Regions from separate parts of the Homo sapiens genome. Here region 2 is linked to region 1. Evidence: fine-mapped expression QTL. Tissue or cell type: whole blood. Region 1 holds a variant in brackets; the other region holds the start of a gene. All regions are shown on one strand. Distances are between the middles of the regions.

Region 1 (8,099 bases):
CCCCCTCCCAGAGGCCCCGCCCCACCCTGCCCTCTGCTTTCGCCGGCTCCCTACCTGACACACTGTGTCCCCCCATATGGCAGCTCCGTGGTCTCGAGATGGAGCCTTGGGGTGGGAGCTGTGGGGACAGGATGGGAGACATGGCACTTTCAGCCAGTGACTCTGACCCTCTTTTCCTGGGCCTCAGTGTCTGCATCTGTGGGATGGAGTGTGGGCCTCTGTGGCTCGTCCCCAAGTGGCTTTGCAGAGCACTGAAGTGCTGGCGGGTCCTTGGGTGTGAGAGACCCCGGTGGATGGCCCTGGGCCCCTGCCCCTGCCAAACCACAGAAGTCCTGCACCCCTTTCCTCCATAGTCTGGGCCTCACATCAGGTTTATCTGGGAAAAATAAAACATGGGGCTCCCTCTGGCCTGGACCGTCAGACCTCGGATGTACACCTGCCCTTGTGTTCAGGACAGTTGGGTCTCAGACTCACCCCATACCTGCAAGGCAGAACCACAGGGGAGCCAGGGAGCCTCCACACTGCAGCCCCCACCACCCAGGGCTGGAAGTGGGTCCCCTGGGCTCCTGCTCTGGGCAGGGCACAGTCCCACCCTCCCAGGTGGAGGCTGCCCACCTAGCCCTCTAGACAGACGCTCGGCCCCACTCAGGCAGGCGCCCCCCTCTCATCTCAGCCTCTCACAGCACCCTGTTGGCCGCCTCTTCCTTAGCCTGCTCAGCCTCCGTGGTAGGTGCTGTGGGTGACGACCACAGCACCCAGCCTTTGAAGCTGGCCCGGGTCCACCCAGACCCTAGCAAACTGGTTGCTCCCTCTCTGGCCATCCCGGGGCTTGTGCCCACGTCACCCAGCAGCATCTTCCCTGGGGTTGTCTCACCCGCACAGAACCCAGCCCTGGCCCACACCTCACCCCAAGCCTATCCGGCTGGATCAGCAGTGGGGCCGGGCGCATGAGGGACCAGGCCCGCCCGGCGCAGCCTAGGGTGCAGACCCCTGGAGTGCACGGCCAGGTGGACCGGGCCAGCTCCCGCCTGCTGCCTGTGCTTAGGGCCAGTGGTTGACGTTGCTGTGGCTGAGTCATCTTCGTGCCTCTCTCTGGAGCCATACGTTTCCCTGAAGCAGCTCTGCTGTTCAGCCCTTATCGCGTGCTGATCTGTTTGCCCCTCCCCCACCACTTCTAGGTCTTTCCAGGCCTCCAGGTACCCACGGTGGGGGAGGGTCTACTTCATTCTCCACAGAGCACGCTGAGGGGCTCTCCTGCAAGAACACCGCAGGCTGAAGGACCAGCCCTGTCTCCTGTGGCCACCAACAGAGCTGTGCGCCCTCCCCGAACCCTCACTCATGCTAGGGCCCCCAGGTCCAACCTCCTAGGGAGAGGGGTCCCCAACCTGGACTCCCTCACCTGCCCTAGTCTGCCCCTGGGGTTGGCCCTGCTCCACCCAGCACCTGCTCTGAGGGTGCCAGGGTGCCGGCCTGCCGGCCAGGGCCTTCCAGTCTCCCCATCAAGGCTGGATGGCCACTTCCCACCCGGGGCGGGCTCCAGCCTCATTCCCCAGCGGTGCTGTCCTTCCAAGGAGCTCTCAGATCACCTGGCTGTCCACTCGTTTGGGGCTTCTCTGCTGCCTCCGCAGCACTGCGAGGCCTCTGATCACCTACTCTCTGTGCTGGGTGCATTTCGGGTTCTGTCCTGCCTTGACCTCCCTGCCAGCTTTGCAGGGCAGCCACCCTGGCACATAGCTCACTGCAGAACCAGCCCCTGAGAAGGTGGAGGCCACATGGCTAGCCAGAGGGCACGCTCTAGGGCACTGCTCTGACCACAGAATGTGGGTGCAGATGGTGTCTGGGAAAATAGTGGTGTCCCCGCTAGGTTAAAGACATGGCATAATGGTTCCTGGGGGATGACAAAAAAACCCACCCCCACCCCCTTGCAGAAAGCATCACAGAGGCACAAGCCCTGTGCCCTGCAAGCCCCTCCTGGAAGTGGCCCAGCAGGGGCATCCCCTGCACACCCAGGCAAAGCCCAAGCCCTCTGCCTCCTCAACCACCCCAGGCCCTGCCCATGAGCCAGCCTTGCTGAACTCTGCCCTCTGTCCAGTTCTCCTCCAGACACAGTAGACATAGCCCCCAGCCTTTCTTGACCCTTAACCCAAATGTCCCCAAGCCTGGCCTCAAGAAGCCAAAGGCTGCCGCAAACCCAAATATTTCAGGTCCGGGTCCCTGGTGCAGACCCTGCCATGCGGGGATGTGGCACAGAAGGCCGGCCAGCCTGGGGAGCAGAGAAGGAGGAGAGGAGAGCTCCTGGCCCTGAGCCTGAATGCCTGTGGACACATATAGGGACTCCCAGCACGCACGGGATGGACTCCAATCGGCACACATGCACATTCCTTGCACACACACAGGCGCGACCGAGGGCCTTGCAGACATAGGGTGCACACGTGCGTGCCGCCTGCATACAGCATGCACTTGCAGAGACGGTTGGCACCTTCCCTTCTCTGGCCCCAAACCTGGGCCCTGAGGCTGTCTGCACACCTGGGTGCTTCCCACCACTGACTCTCTCGTCTGCCTTTGTCCCCGCAGGTGACGCAGCTGGACCAGAGGCTGGCACTCATCACCGACATGCTTCACCAGCTGCTCTCCTTGCACGGTGGCAGCACCCCCGGCAGCGGCGGCCCCCCCAGAGAGGGCGGGGCCCACATCACCCAGCCCTGCGGCAGTGGCGGCTCCGTCGACCCTGAGCTCTTCCTGCCCAGCAACACCCTGCCCACCTACGAGCAGCTGACCGTGCCCAGGAGGGGCCCCGATGAGGGGTCCTGAGGAGGGGATGGGGCTGGGGGATGGGCCTGAGTGAGAGGGGAGGCCAAGAGTGGCCCCACCTGGCCCTCTCTGAAGGAGGCCACCTCCTAAAAGGCCCAGAGAGAAGAGCCCCACTCTCAGAGGCCCCAATACCCCATGGACCATGCTGTCTGGCACAGCCTGCACTTGGGGGCTCAGCAAGGCCACCTCTTCCTGGCCGGTGTGGGGGCCCCGTCTCAGGTCTGAGTTGTTACCCCAAGCGCCCTGGCCCCCACATGGTGATGTTGACATCACTGGCATGGTGGTTGGGACCCAGTGGCAGGGCACAGGGCCTGGCCCATGTATGGCCAGGAAGTAGCACAGGCTGAGTGCAGGCCCACCCTGCTTGGCCCAGGGGGCTTCCTGAGGGGAGACAGAGCAACCCCTGGACCCCAGCCTCAAATCCAGGACCCTGCCAGGCACAGGCAGGGCAGGACCAGCCCACGCTGACTACAGGGCC[G/A]CCGGCAATAAAAGCCCAGGAGCCCATTTGGAGGGCCTGGGCCTGGCTCCCTCACTCTCAGGAAATGCTGACCCATGGGCAGGAGACTGTGGAGACTGCTCCTGAGCCCCCAGCTTCCAGCAGGAGGGACAGTCTCACCATTTCCCCAGGGCACGTGGTTGAGTGGGGGGAACGCCCACTTCCCTGGGTTAGACTGCCAGCTCTTCCTAGCTGGAGAGGAGCCCTGCCTCTCCGCCCCTGAGCCCACTGTGCGTGGGGCTCCCGCCTCCAACCCCTCGCCCAGTCCCAGCAGCCAGCCAAACACACAGAAGGGGACTGCCACCTCCCCTTGCCAGCTGCTGAGCCGCAGAGAAGTGACGGTTCCTACACAGGACAGGGGTTCCTTCTGGGCATTACATCGCATAGAAATCAATAATTTGTGGTGATTTGGATCTGTGTTTTAATGAGTTTCACAGTGTGATTTTGATTATTAATTGTGCAAGCTTTTCCTAATAAACGTGGAGAATCACAGGCTGGGCTGGGCACTGCTCTCACCTTGGTTCCTGGGGCATCCATGGGGTCTCTCACAGACAGGACCCCTGCAGTTCCCCTGGAAGCAGTGCCCAGGTGGCTGTGGAATAGGAACGCTATGTCCGTGTACTGAGGAGTAGGTCAGGGTTCAGAGGGGCTGCAAGATGCCATCGAAGGCTCTAGCTTAGCGACGTCGCTCCTGTTCTGGGCCCTGGGCTGGCCCTGGCCATGAAGTGCAGTCACAGTGTGGTCACTGCCTGTCTTCCAGCAGACTCTATGCCCTTGCGGCAGATGGGCTCTGTCTGGGCCTCTCTGTCTGCCCCTCCCAGGCCAGGGTGGCCCTTCATCAAGGACCCACATGCTCCACTCTGGGAGCAGGCCCCACCCAGGCCCATTCCCCAGGATGCCAAGGGCTAAACTCTGGAGGGGTTGTGGTGCAAGGAAGGCCTGGGGCCCCTGAGGCTCCCATATGCTCACCCCTGGCCTCCTCCGGGCCTCTATTTCCCCATTGGTAACACGATGCTCCCTTAGCCTGTCCAGTTCTCTGAGTGGGACAGAGGGGCCACCACCCTGCTCGCCCTGACCCTGTTCCTGCAGCTTTCTGTGAGGCCCGCCTCTCCTAAGGTGGAAAGAGTGCCTCACTCTCGGCACAGACACACTCAACCGGGGCAGGTGCATCTGCTGTGCCCCCACCTCAGCTATTGGACCGTTTCTCAGTCCTTCAGGACTGCAGCCGCCTTCTGTCCTCTTTCCAGAGCCCATCCCGAAGTCTCAGGATATGAGGGCTTGGGGCATCTGAGATATCAAGGATGGGGCTGTCCTGAGTCCACTGGGGGCAGGAGGCGGCCAGCAGCAGGTGGCAGGGACAGGGGCCCCAGGTTTCTGTGTGGAGTAGGGGTGGAAGCCCTTGTTAGAGGGAAAGGCCCTGGGTCCCACCTGGTGCCAAGCCCACTGGGCCCGTGCCCCCAACCCATGGGTCTTGGCATCTGGCCTGGCCAGCACTGACCGGGATGGACGAGGTGGAGGGGCAGCACGGGGCTTCCCAGGCTTCCCTGGCCTGCACCCCTCCGGGAGGAGCGGGAGCAGCAGTTACTGAAAGGCAGGAACTGTTGTTTCCTTGTTGGGTAAATATTTGTGGAAACCCGGGGATGCCGGCCGGAAAGCAGGGCCCTCCACAGCGCCCAGGCCCCCCAGCCCCGGCCGCCCACCCCGGGACCCTGGCCCACAGGGAGCTCCGTGGGGCCGCCCATCTGGGCCGGGCGCGGCCCCGGCACCCAGCCCGCCTTGTTGTCCATATTATGGACTGCGCACAAAGTGCCCGAGGACTCCTCTCCTGGACGGGCCATTGCAGCCCTCTCGGGTGTGAAATGCAATTTACCTGAAATAAAGCCCAATTATGGAATTAGCTAATTAAAGCCATGGCGGAGGCTGGGCCTGGCCGGCCGAGTGCTCAATGCCCGCCGGTGCCCGTGGACTGAGGGAACAGATGGCGCCTCGGCCCGCCGTGCCGGCCGCATTCCTTCACTCTGTCCCCCGATAAGTGACCTAGACAGCACACGACCATCTGGTGTGTGGCACGTCCTGCGGGCCCCGGACAATGGCCCGGCAGACCTCTCTGCGAGAGGGCCGTCGCCCGGGCAACGGTGGCATGTGCAGCCCCGACCCATTCACGGCCCCTCCCGCAGCCCCTTTCTTCGGGCCCTTTGTGGCCTCACCGCGGCTGCCTGGCTGCTCTGGCTGAGGATAGCCATGAGTGTTTGTCCCCAGAGCCGGCCTTTGTCTCCAAATTGGGCTCCCTTATTGAGGTCCTCGGGGTCCAATGGGTGCCAGGAGCATCTGCTGGGGGTGACTGGGGGAGGGGCTGCTCCTGCTTCCTGGGGCACCCACCTCCTCTGCCAGGCTCTCCTCCCCCGTTGCCTGCCCCCAGATGTCCCCTCGTGGGTGCTGGGCGTGGCCATGGGGAAGCCCGTCTCTAGGGCTGGCACTGGCCAAGCCCGAGGTTCTCCCATCTTCGGGCCAGGGAGCCAGGAGGAGGAGGAGTCAAGGGCGGGGCCGACCTGCAGCCCCTCAGCTCCCACCCCAGTCCTGTCTGCGAAATGGGGAACAGTAAAAGTGCCCCCTAGAAGGGGCGTACGGGGCAGGGGCTTGATGGAGATGAGACATGTGAGCACACAGTAGGTGCTTAATAAAGGAAGCCAAACAAACCACCTGGGTGGGTGATACTGGGCTCTGCCTCCTTGCTGCTCTCCTGCCTGTTGCCTCGGAGCTCCTTTCTGAGGCCCCTCCTGCATCTAGCCTTACCCCACCAAGCTCCCTGCCCCTCGGTGCCAGGGAGAGCTGTCCAAACCCAAGCTGGCAGTTCCCCATCCTGCTCTCAAGCCAACCATGACTCCCCACTGCTGAGTGGGCCTGTGAGGCCCCACAGGCTGCAACCCTGCCACTCACCCTGGGCATCCCCCGCCATGAGCCCAGCTTCCCCATCCTCACCCTGTACTTGACGTCCAGCCCCCCTCCCTACTCAGGACCTCCTCTGAGCACCATCTTGGCAGGCAGTCCCCCACCAGCGTGGTGGTCAGGAGTCAGGCCCACCACTGGGAGAGGGGCTGTGCTGGGCCTTTGAGGCCCCAAAAAGGAGCCGGGGCTGGCAGTGCCTAGTACAAGCCTGGCCCCAGCTGGGTGCTCAGGAAGTGCCAGTTAAATTAAGGAATAAAATGAAAAGTTGGAAGGAGGCTGCCCAGTGCTGCATGTGCAGCAGAGGTACCAGGACCCAAGCAGGGCATCACCAGGCGTCCCTCCAATGGACAGGAGAGGGGTCCACACCCTGCGCCCTGAAGGAGGGATCAGGCCAGGTGTTTTGATCTGGGGCAGCCAGACAGCTGGGGGAAGGAGCAGGAAGGCAGACAAGAGCCAGGGCTCCTGGGGCCACCACACACAGCACCCCCATCTCCAGGGGATTTGCTGAGTCACCTGCAGGGATGAAGACTGCCCTTTCTCAACTATATCAAGTCCCTAATTTGGAGTGCCCATCTGAGCTGTGCCAAAGCCTGCTCCCCCCAGCACCCCAGCCTCCTCTCAGCACAGCCCTCCGGGCTCTAGGACCCAGGGGTTCCTTGCGAATCTTTTTTTTTTTTTTTTGAGACGGAGTCTCACTCTGTCTCTCAGGCTGGAGTGCAGTGGCACGATCTCAGCTCACTGCAAGCTCCGCCTCCCGCCATTCTCCTGCCTCAGCCTCCCGAGTAGCTGGGACTACAGGCGCCCACCACCACGCCCGGCTAATTTTTTTTTGTATTTTTAGTAGAGATGGGGTTTAACCATGTCAGCCAGGATGGCCTCGATCTCCTGACCTCGTGATCCGCCCGCCTCGGCCTCCCAAAGCGCTGGGATTACAGGCATGAGCCACCGCACCCGGCCTCCTTGGGGATCTTAAGCGTGTCTCAGCCTCACCATTCTCGGCCCCCAACTGCACCAACCCCGCTCTTGCCTCTGGCCCTATTCTTGTGGCCCTGGAGGGCCAGCTAGTTGGGAGATCAGGCCTGTGGCCTGTGTCCCAGCACCCTTCACCTTTCCTGTCCCCACCCAGGTCAGCCAGGGTCCCAGGCAGCCAGGCCTGGAGGATGCTTGGGGCAGCCAAAGCCAAACAGAGCTTCAGTTTCCACTGGCCTCTGAGTGCAGACAGCCGGGGCCAGGGCCCCCTGGAAGCTGACAGGTCCCACCCCGGCCCTTCCCAACTCCACTGTGGAGCCTTGGTGAGGAAGCCTAGAGGGCCCTCAGTCGGGCAGTGCAGGAGGGCTGGGGGCTGCCACCCCAGCCCAAGGCCTTAGAGGCCAAGGCCCCAGCCTGTCCCACCCAGGCACTGGCTGGGTAATAGGAGGCGGGGCATCCACTCTGCCCTCAAGATCCTTCTCCCTCAGTAGGTCCTGCTATGACCTCCTGGCCCTCCTCTTCAGCACCCCGTACCAGGCCTCCTACAACTCCCCTCCCCTGCAGCCCCCACAGCTCAAGGCACCTGAGTGAGGCAGAGCGTAAAGGAGATGGACAGCCTGGCCCAGGGCAGCCCTGCTGGACTCCAGGAGATGCTTGGGCCCGCTCCCCACTCTTCCTTCTAGACCCTCACCCATGGCTCCCAGAGGGGACGAGGCCGCCCTTAATTCCCAGAGCCAAGCCCAGCCCCACCGCCCACCTATCCCCAGGCTTGGGTTTCGCACACGTACAGGCAGCGAGCCCGAGGCCCAGGAAGACACAAGCCGGGCCCAGAGGTGGCCATGGATGGCTCAGTGGACAGAATCCATCCTGGTGCCTT
Region 2 (8,099 bases), 400 kb before region 1:
CAGCTCCTTGGAGCTTGCAGGGAGCTTGAAGACAATCCCTTGTCCAGTCTCTCTCCTGCCTCAGTGTCCCCAAGCCAATGGGACCCCATACCCCCAGAGCAGCAGGCTGTGGCACAGCTCAGGGCCCAGGAGACAGCCCTGGGGGCCTCCAAGAAGCCTCCCTAGTGAGTTATTAGAATTTTTTTTTTTTAGATGGAGTTTCGCTCTTGTCACCCAGGCTGGAGTGCAGTGGTGCGATCTCAGCTCACTGCAGCCTCTGCCTCCCGGGTCCAAGTGATTCTCCTGCCTCAGCCTCCTGAGTAGGTGGGATTACAGGTGTGTGCCACCACACCCAGCTAATTTTGGATTTTCAGTAGAGGCGGGGTTTTACCATGTTGACCAGGCTGGTCTCAAACTCCTGACCTCAAGCGATCAGCCTGCCTCGGCCTCCCAAAGTGCTGGGATTACAGGTGTGAGCCACTGCATCCGGCCTAGAATTTTTAAAATATGGAGGCTTGACCTGCCTGACCGCCCTGCCTTTTCACTCGTTTTCAGAATAATGAGCAAAGCAACCTGCAGAAGATCAAATAGGATTTTTCAGTATTATCATGAATGCATGGGCTTTTCAGCTATTTGATGTGTTTTCATCCATGACTCTTTCTGATGCTCAAATTGTCCCATTGTTGATCAGCCCCTTCTCAAACTTGACAATGAACAATAGTAGGATATACCTTTTTCCTAAGATAAAATAGCTGAGGAGTCTATGCTAATATAGTCCATTCAATTTAAGGACTGGTTTGTACTTCTTTGATTTTTTAAATCTGTATCACTTTTATACTGAAAATCTTGGTTCCAAAGGAATTTAGCATCATTCTTTGATACACACACACACACACACACACACACACACACACACACACACACAGAGTTCTTTGGGATCCTTTGGTTGAGTATTAGTGATCATATTGATCATGGCACTCCATCGTGTGACTGTACCACAGCACAGCTGAAGCGATTGAAGGACATTGTGATTGTCTCTAGACTTTTGCTAATATAAAAAATGCTGTTTTGACTATCATTATGTATATGTACTTTTCTATTTTTCCTACATATCTTTGGGTTATTTCCTAGAAGTGGGGTTTCTGTGTCAAATGATACATTTAGTAATATCGCTAGGTCTCTTTTCTACCAGTGATGAGGAGTGCACCTGTGCCTGCTGCCTCTCCCACAGAGTTGCCATCAAAAGTCTGGATTTTTGCCAATCTGATAAGCAAGCAGTGGTATCAGAGTGTACTTTTCATTTGCATTTTTCTTGTTATAAATGAGGTTGAACATTTTTTCATAAGTGCAAAGGTCATGAACCCCATTTCCTATGAACTGCTCATGTCTTCTGCTCCCTTTTCTATAGGACTGTCTGGCAGGTTCCTCACCTCAGTTTTGATGTTCTTTATGTATCAGTGATATTAATCCTTTGTGATCGAAACTGCAAATACTTTTCCCATTTGGTCATTTGTCTCCTTTACTTTGCTAATGGTGCTTCTATTTTAATTTTTCTTATTTTATCTGTTGCTTTTGGATTTCAAGTCATAGTTGGAAATGTTTTCCCGATTCACAGGTTCTTGAGGAATTGACCTGTACATTCTTGTAGAATTTGCATGGCTTCATCTCACCCTTTACACTTGAGCCTCTGATTCATTTGAGATTTATTCTCGTGTGCGGTGAGATGGACCCAAGGTATGCTTTTTCTTTCTTTATGACTGTCCAGTTGTCCAAACGCTGCTTATTCAAAGCTCACCTTCCTCCTGCTGAGGTGGGAGGGGAAGGCAGAGACTCCATGCAGGTGTATGTATGTTCACCCGGAAAGTAACTGCTGAATGCGTGCTGTGTGCCCTGCAGAGCTGACTGACTGCCCCCATCTTCTGACCCGCTGCCCTTCTGCACCTTCACTGATATGCTTCCCAGGAAGGTACCCTCTCCTCGGCCTCCCTTGTGTTATCACAGCGCCCAGCACAAGCTGGGACCCACTCCATCCACTCTTGCTGCAAATACAGACTGTGCACTCCTGTGTGGCACCTCACTAGGGTGGGGAGTCAGGCGTCAAGGGCCTGGGCTGGACTCCGTCCACGATAAAAGAGCAGACTTTTGGCAGGGGGTGGTAGATACATCAAATTGACCCAGGGTGCTCAGGGACGACCTGGAAGTGTCACATGAGTTATGGGTCTCCTGGCGGGGCGGAGAGTCACCGCTGAGCTCCACCTTTAGTCCCTGCCTCAGGGCTGTGTGCAGTATCCTGAAAAAAGCCGGTCTCTTCTGTTGGCTGCCCCCCACCCCCCCCCCAAGCCTGAGACGTGCTGAGACCCAAATGCCAGTAGCGGGCGGGAGGCAGTGCAGAGACCTGTGAAAATCTTCCGATGTGACCAACCCACCCCCACCCAGGGGAATCCACGGGGCGCAGCGGCAGCGCGGTCTCGACGGTGGGGAGGACAAGGCGCCCATTCTCCAAGTTACTAGGGTGGCGCAAGCGCCTCTCCCTTTAACTGCCCAGGCAGCCCCGCCTGCTATGCCCGGCAGTCAAACCAGGTCCAGACCCCGGCTGTGCCGCCCCCACCCCCCAGCAGCCCTGCCGGCTCCCCACCCACACAGCTCCCACTGGGAGGTACCTGACAGTGGTGGTCCCATCTCACCCTCCCGGTCCAAGGGCCCTGGTGGGAAGCGACCCGAGCGTATTCGCCGCCCGCAGCTCGCGCGCCTGGGCACCCGGGGGCGCTCACAGTGATCGCGGGGCCAGCACACCCTCACCCAGGACATCCCTTTCCTCCCCCCAACCCCAACTCCGGAGTGGCTCAGAGGGAGGGAAAGTAGATGCCGGCACCCTACCCCGCCCCTCCTGCCCCCGCTGTGCCGTTCTCGGTCGTGGTATCGGCCAGGCCTTACCCCTTCCTCCCTGGCGCAGCTGGGGTCCTCCTCCGGGCCAGGCAGAGCAGGCGGGCATCAGAAGTGGGGGCCAAGCAGGTGGGTGAGGGCAGGGCAGGAGCAAGCAGGGGAGATGCAGACGGGGCGGGGCCAAGCAGGTGGGTGAGGGCGGGGCCAAGCAGGTGGGCGGGGAGGGGGCGGGGCCAGGCGGGGTAAATGCACACTGGAACGGGGCCAAACAGGTGGGCGAGGAGGGGGCGGGGCCAAGCGGGATAGATGACACGAGCGGGGCTAAGCAGGTGGGCTCGGGCGGGGGTGGGGGTGGGGGCGGGGGCGCAGGCGGGGGCGGGGGCGCGGACAGGCCAAGCCAGGGGGTGAGGCGGAGGCAGGGCCAGGCCGGTCCGTGGGGAGAGGGCGGGCCAAGCCGGTGGGCGCGGGCAGGGACGCCCTGTGCGCGCCGGACCGGCGGGGGCGGGGCGTGCAGGCGGGGGCGGGGCACGCCGTCCCATGGGACCGGCCCTCGGCCACTGCCCCCTCCGGCCCCGCCCCGAGCGCCCGGGCTGGGCCGGCAGCGGCCCCCCGCGGCGGGGCTGGCAGCAGTGGCTGCCCGCACTGCGCCCGGGCGCTCGCCTTCGCTGCAGCTCCCGGTGCCGCCGCTCGGGCCGGCCCCCCGGCAGGCCCTCCTCGTTATGGCCGCGGCCTCCTCCCCGCCCAGGGCCGAGAGGAAGCGCTGGGGTTGGGGCCGCCTGCCAGGCGCCCGGCGGGGCAGCGCGGGCCTGGCCAAGAAGTGCCCCTTCTCGCTGGAGCTGGCGGAGGGCGGCCCGGCGGGCGGCGCGCTCTACGCGCCCATCGCGCCCGGCGCCCCAGGTCCCGCGCCCCCTGCGTCCCCGGCCGCGCCCGCCGCGCCCCCAGTTGCCTCCGACCTTGGCCCGCGGCCGCCGGTGAGCCTAGACCCGCGCGTCTCCATCTACAGCACGCGCCGCCCGGTGTTGGCGCGCACCCACGTCCAGGGCCGCGTCTACAACTTCCTCGAGCGTCCCACCGGCTGGAAATGCTTCGTTTACCACTTCGCCGTGTGAGTATCGCCACCGGCGACGGCCGGCACGAAGGTGCTTCCTGAGAGCTGGTGTGGGGGAGCTCTGTCCCAGCGCCACCTGCCCCGTCGGAGCTGCGACCCCGGAGCAGAGGAGGGAAGGAAGTGGGGAAACGCAGAAACACAAACTCTGCACTCTCCCTTGAAGTTCAGAGGCGCTGCTGTGTCTGGGGGTGCGCATCTTCTCGCAGGCCCGGCGTGGGGAGGGAGCCGGCTGGGGAGGGGACCACCTGGAGCCCAGAATTTGGCTCCACACCTCCGGGAGGGTAGTCCAGGTGTGAATCCTTCTGGGAAGAGAAGCGTGCTGGGGAGCGCACCCTTGGGTGCAGTAAGATAACTCCTCAAGGTCGGCTGAGACTCGAGGCTCAGGAGCCCCCAAGAGAGAAGGCCCCTGATGTCCGGTGCCGCATCTCAGACCCCCTGAGGCCCAGGTGGACTCTGGGGCAGGGGGCTGTCCAGGATAGGAAGGTGACGGTGGCGGTGCTCCCTGAGGGCTCAGCATGCCACGGGCCGTCCCCACGGGCCCCACATTAACTAATTGAACCAAGCTCATGAAAACCTGGCTTGATGCAGAGAGCGGAGAGGCACGTTTGCAGCTCTCACTAAGAGGCAGCTGTGCTCCCGGAGAAAGCAGCGCTGGTAGCAGAGGCACCTGGCCCCCCTGTTACCAGGTGGTTCCAATTCCCGGTACAGCGTGCCTGAGCAGGGCTGGGCACTGGATTTCTCAGGGACAGGCCTGGGAAGTCACCTCCGGGAAGGTCCAGGCTGCTCTCCTCCATGCCTGCCTGGGGCCTTCCCCCGCTGCCCCAGTGGCCCTACTTCCTGGCTGCCCAGCCAGCGGCCTTTTGGTGTGGTGCCAGCCTCTGGCCTGGGAGCCTCTACCCAGACATCCCATGGCTGATGGCTGTGGGGCTCACCTGAGGGCTGAAGGGTGGTCTCCCTGAGCGTCCTCAGGTGGAAGCATCTCCTCTGCCTCGGGCAGGCTCAGTAGAGAACTGGCTGGAGGGCATCCAGAGGCCTGTCCATGCCTGCTGGCAGCTGCCACCAGGGCCTCAGGGCGGGTGACAGCAGGAGCCAGGCCCCAAATGGCTTCAAGCATCGTCTCAGGTGAGGGGGTGGGGTAGGGGTCGCAGGGCTACTGCCTTCCTTGCTAAGAGGTGGCCTTCCACATCAGGAAGGGGAAGTCTTACCCACCTCCCTCCTCAAAGATGTGGTTGGGGGGTGATCTTGGAGACTTTTCCCCACCCCAGCTCCCAAGCCCCTGTCTCCTGACATGTCAGTGGGTGCCTGAGCCACAGCCGCTGCTGGTCTGTGAGAGGAGCTGGCTCTGCTCGTGGCTGCAACAGCGGGGGCTCGGCTTGGGGTTTGGGAGATATTTGTGTGCAGTGACCCCAGGGGAACCCAGTCCGATGCCACTGTGCAAATGTCTAGCAGATGCCAGGTTCACAGGTGCTGTGTGCTGGTGGCCACCTGCCTCCCGGACCCCAGACTCTCTGAGATGTCCAAGGGTGGGAAGACCTCCTCAGCCAGAGGCCAAGGCAAAGTGCCCGCAGACCCCCTCAATTCTCACTTGTATTCAGGTTTGTGGACACATGCCTCCGGGCTCACTGCAGCCACCCGTGTGGAGGAAGAGGAGGAAGAGGGCTCGCCACGCCCCAGAGGAAGTCTCTGCTTGCACTTGTGTTTTCTTCCTCATTTGGATTGTTTAGGTCTCGGAAGTTTGCTCAGCAAGAGTCTACCTTCGCCCAGCCTCCGCAGAGCTGGCAAGGCAGGGGTGGCTTCTGGGGACAGGGGCAGGATGGCTTCTGTGAAGGGGTGGCCAGGAAAGGGATGCTTCTGTGAAGTGGCCAGATCTGGGGCTGGTCCTTTCCAGTTCTGGGTCCTGTCCTTGTAAGACGTGTGCCTGGCCCTGGGAAGTTGTCATGAACAGCCTCCAACCCAGGTACCTCCATGTGGGGTGGGACTGGAGGTGGACCCTGACTGGGCAGGACATGTGGCTTGGTGGGGGCCTGGGAGATGCGCTCCCACCCTCAGTGCCCTAGGAGGTTGGCAGGACCAGTCTCTTGAGGGGAGACCTGGTCATAGAACCAGGATGGCAGAGTAGCTGGAGGCCACCTGCAGCCTCACGAAATCAGGTCCAGCCTTGCGCCAGTCCAGCCTTGTGTTGCTGTAAGAAGTCTTGGCAATGGTGGCGGAGACAGGGCCCTGTCCTTAGGTGGATTGTGAAATGAGAAATATTGTGGTTTCTGGCCTGAAGACGACAAGCCTGGCCTTGAAGAGCCAGGGCCCAGGCATGTGTGCAGGGGGGTTGAGGCAGGAGCCGGTGTTCCGCTGACCCTACAGGGCTAGGGCGAACTCTCCTGTGTGCGCCTGGGGAAGCCAGCCAGGATATCCTGTCCCCTCCTCGGGGAACCCCCCCTCCCCAGGAGAGCAGCTCTTCCTGTGTTCCTTCTGGCCTCCCTGGGCTGGCCGGGGTGGACACGGCACCTGGGCCACAACTCTTGCCCGCTTAGGCTTCCTGCCCCCAACACCCCCAGTTATCTGTGGTTGCTTGCGCCCCCACTGGGGGCAGCTCCCATCTTAGCTGAGGGGATGGGGGTCCATACAGCCCTGCTGCACCCAGCGGTCCTAGCTCCCTTGCTGTGAGCCTTAGCCAGGGGTGTGGACATCCAGGTGGCATCTACTCTGGTTGCTGAGATGCTTGGAGATCCTGGTTGTGGCCAAGGAGAGGGATTTGAGGGGGGACCTGCAGTGCATGGAGACTGCCCCTGTAGGCTCTCAAACCTAAGTCTGGCTCAGCAGCCCCTGTTCCCCGCTCCTACAGCCTTGGCTTTCCCTGTTTCCCAAGAACTTTCCAGGGGTGTTGGCAGAACCCTCGCGGGTGCGTGTTAATCAACAATGGAGCCAGAAGCAGGTCCCAGAGGTGGATGGGGCTGATCTGGCTGCCTCCCCAAAAGACAAGGCCATGCAGAGCCAGCTCTCAGGGTGCAGCACCCAACTTTGTGGACTCCAGTGCCCTCCTATCTCCAGGCTCTGGCATTGGAGTCTGAAGCAGCTGCTGGGCAGTTGTTCTGCAGCTGGGCAGGGAGGCCAGAGGCCAAGGCAGGTGGTGGGGCTGGGCACAGAGGAGGACGGGGCTCTCTGAGCCATCAGGTCTCTTTCTCTCCATCTTCTTTAAGATCTGTCCACCCACTCCTCAGCCCTAGATTCCCAGGAAAACTGGGAATTCCTTTTGGGGCTTTTCCCAGTGCTACCTTCTGTGGGGCATGAGCCCTTGGTCTCATCCCCTGGCTGTCTGGGGTCCCCTCACCTACATCGCAGACCCGGCCCAGTGTTTCTAGATCCGCTCTTGCCAACATGTCGAGTGCCTAACTGTGGCTTCGTACTAGTTGGGGGGAACACAGGCATCCCTTACCCCTGGCCGTCAGCTGGGGAGGGGGTAGTCCAGGTGGCAAGAGCCTAGAGCCTGGGAGAAAGGGCCTCCCCAGCCTGTGTGGGGACAGGGGATCAGGAGGGTGGTAGGGACTTGGGTCCTTGCAGGTGGCCTGGGCAGTGCCTGGTGGGCATGGATCAGGTGGCAGGGCTTTGTGTCTGGGCATGGCCCTGTGGCTGGGCTGCCTTGGCCAGGGTCCTGGGCCTTCTGAGTCTGCGTCTCATTCTCTGTGGCAGGCTCCTGGTGCTGGCACCTTCAGTGCAGGGTGCCTCGGTTGGAGGGAACATTCACCCGTGCCTGGCACTGAAGCCACAGCTCCCTGTGGGCATGGTGCCCGCAGCTTGAGCCTACAACCCTGGGGTACTGGGGGCAGGAGGGTCCCTTTTTGCTTGGCAGTTGCGAGGTACTGGAACCTTTGCATATAACGTGCGGGCTGCGTTGTGTCACAGGGCCGGGTCTGAGGGAGGGGCTTTGCGGGGACACTCCTGGGTACCGATGGGATGAACTTCCGCTGGGCCTGAAGGCCTGGGATGCTTTTGGGCCGGCCAGTGCGGGGTCAGGTGGTTGGAGCCAGGGAGCTGGCACGTCAGCTGCTGCTATGAGTTCTGCCACGTGCCATCCTGGCATGTGGCACGTCTTGCAGAGGACAGGAAGGGTGAACAGCTCCAAACCCACCCTATG

The links. PIP is the estimated chance that this variant, and not a neighbour inherited with it, causes the effect.
Region 2: it holds the start of KCNQ1, and the variant in region 1 is fine-mapped to the expression of KCNQ1 in whole blood (TOPMed, PIP 0.99).

What each region holds. Positions count from the first base shown.
Region 1 is chr11:2,845,193-2,853,291 of GRCh38, forward strand. It overlaps KCNQ1 (potassium voltage-gated channel subfamily Q member 1), which reads left to right. Exons shown (of 16, transcript NM_000218.3): 16 at 2,575-3,913. The coding sequence ends at 2,811. The region is part of intron 2 of KCNQ1-AS1 (KCNQ1 antisense RNA 1); the gene reads right to left. Among named protein-coding and RNA genes, the nearest start is that of KCNQ1-AS1, 12 kb to the right of the region's middle. The variant G/A (reference allele first, on the strand shown) is at 3,290.
Region 2 is chr11:2,441,518-2,449,616 of GRCh38, forward strand. KCNQ1 (potassium voltage-gated channel subfamily Q member 1) reads left to right here and starts at 3,491. Exons shown (of 16, transcript NM_000218.3): 1 at 3,491-3,967. The coding sequence starts at 3,582. TRPM5 (transient receptor potential cation channel subfamily M member 5) reads right to left here and starts at 2,997. Exons shown (of 29, transcript NM_014555.4): 1 at 2,914-2,997. RefSeq lists silencers at 3,291-3,400, 3,411-3,480.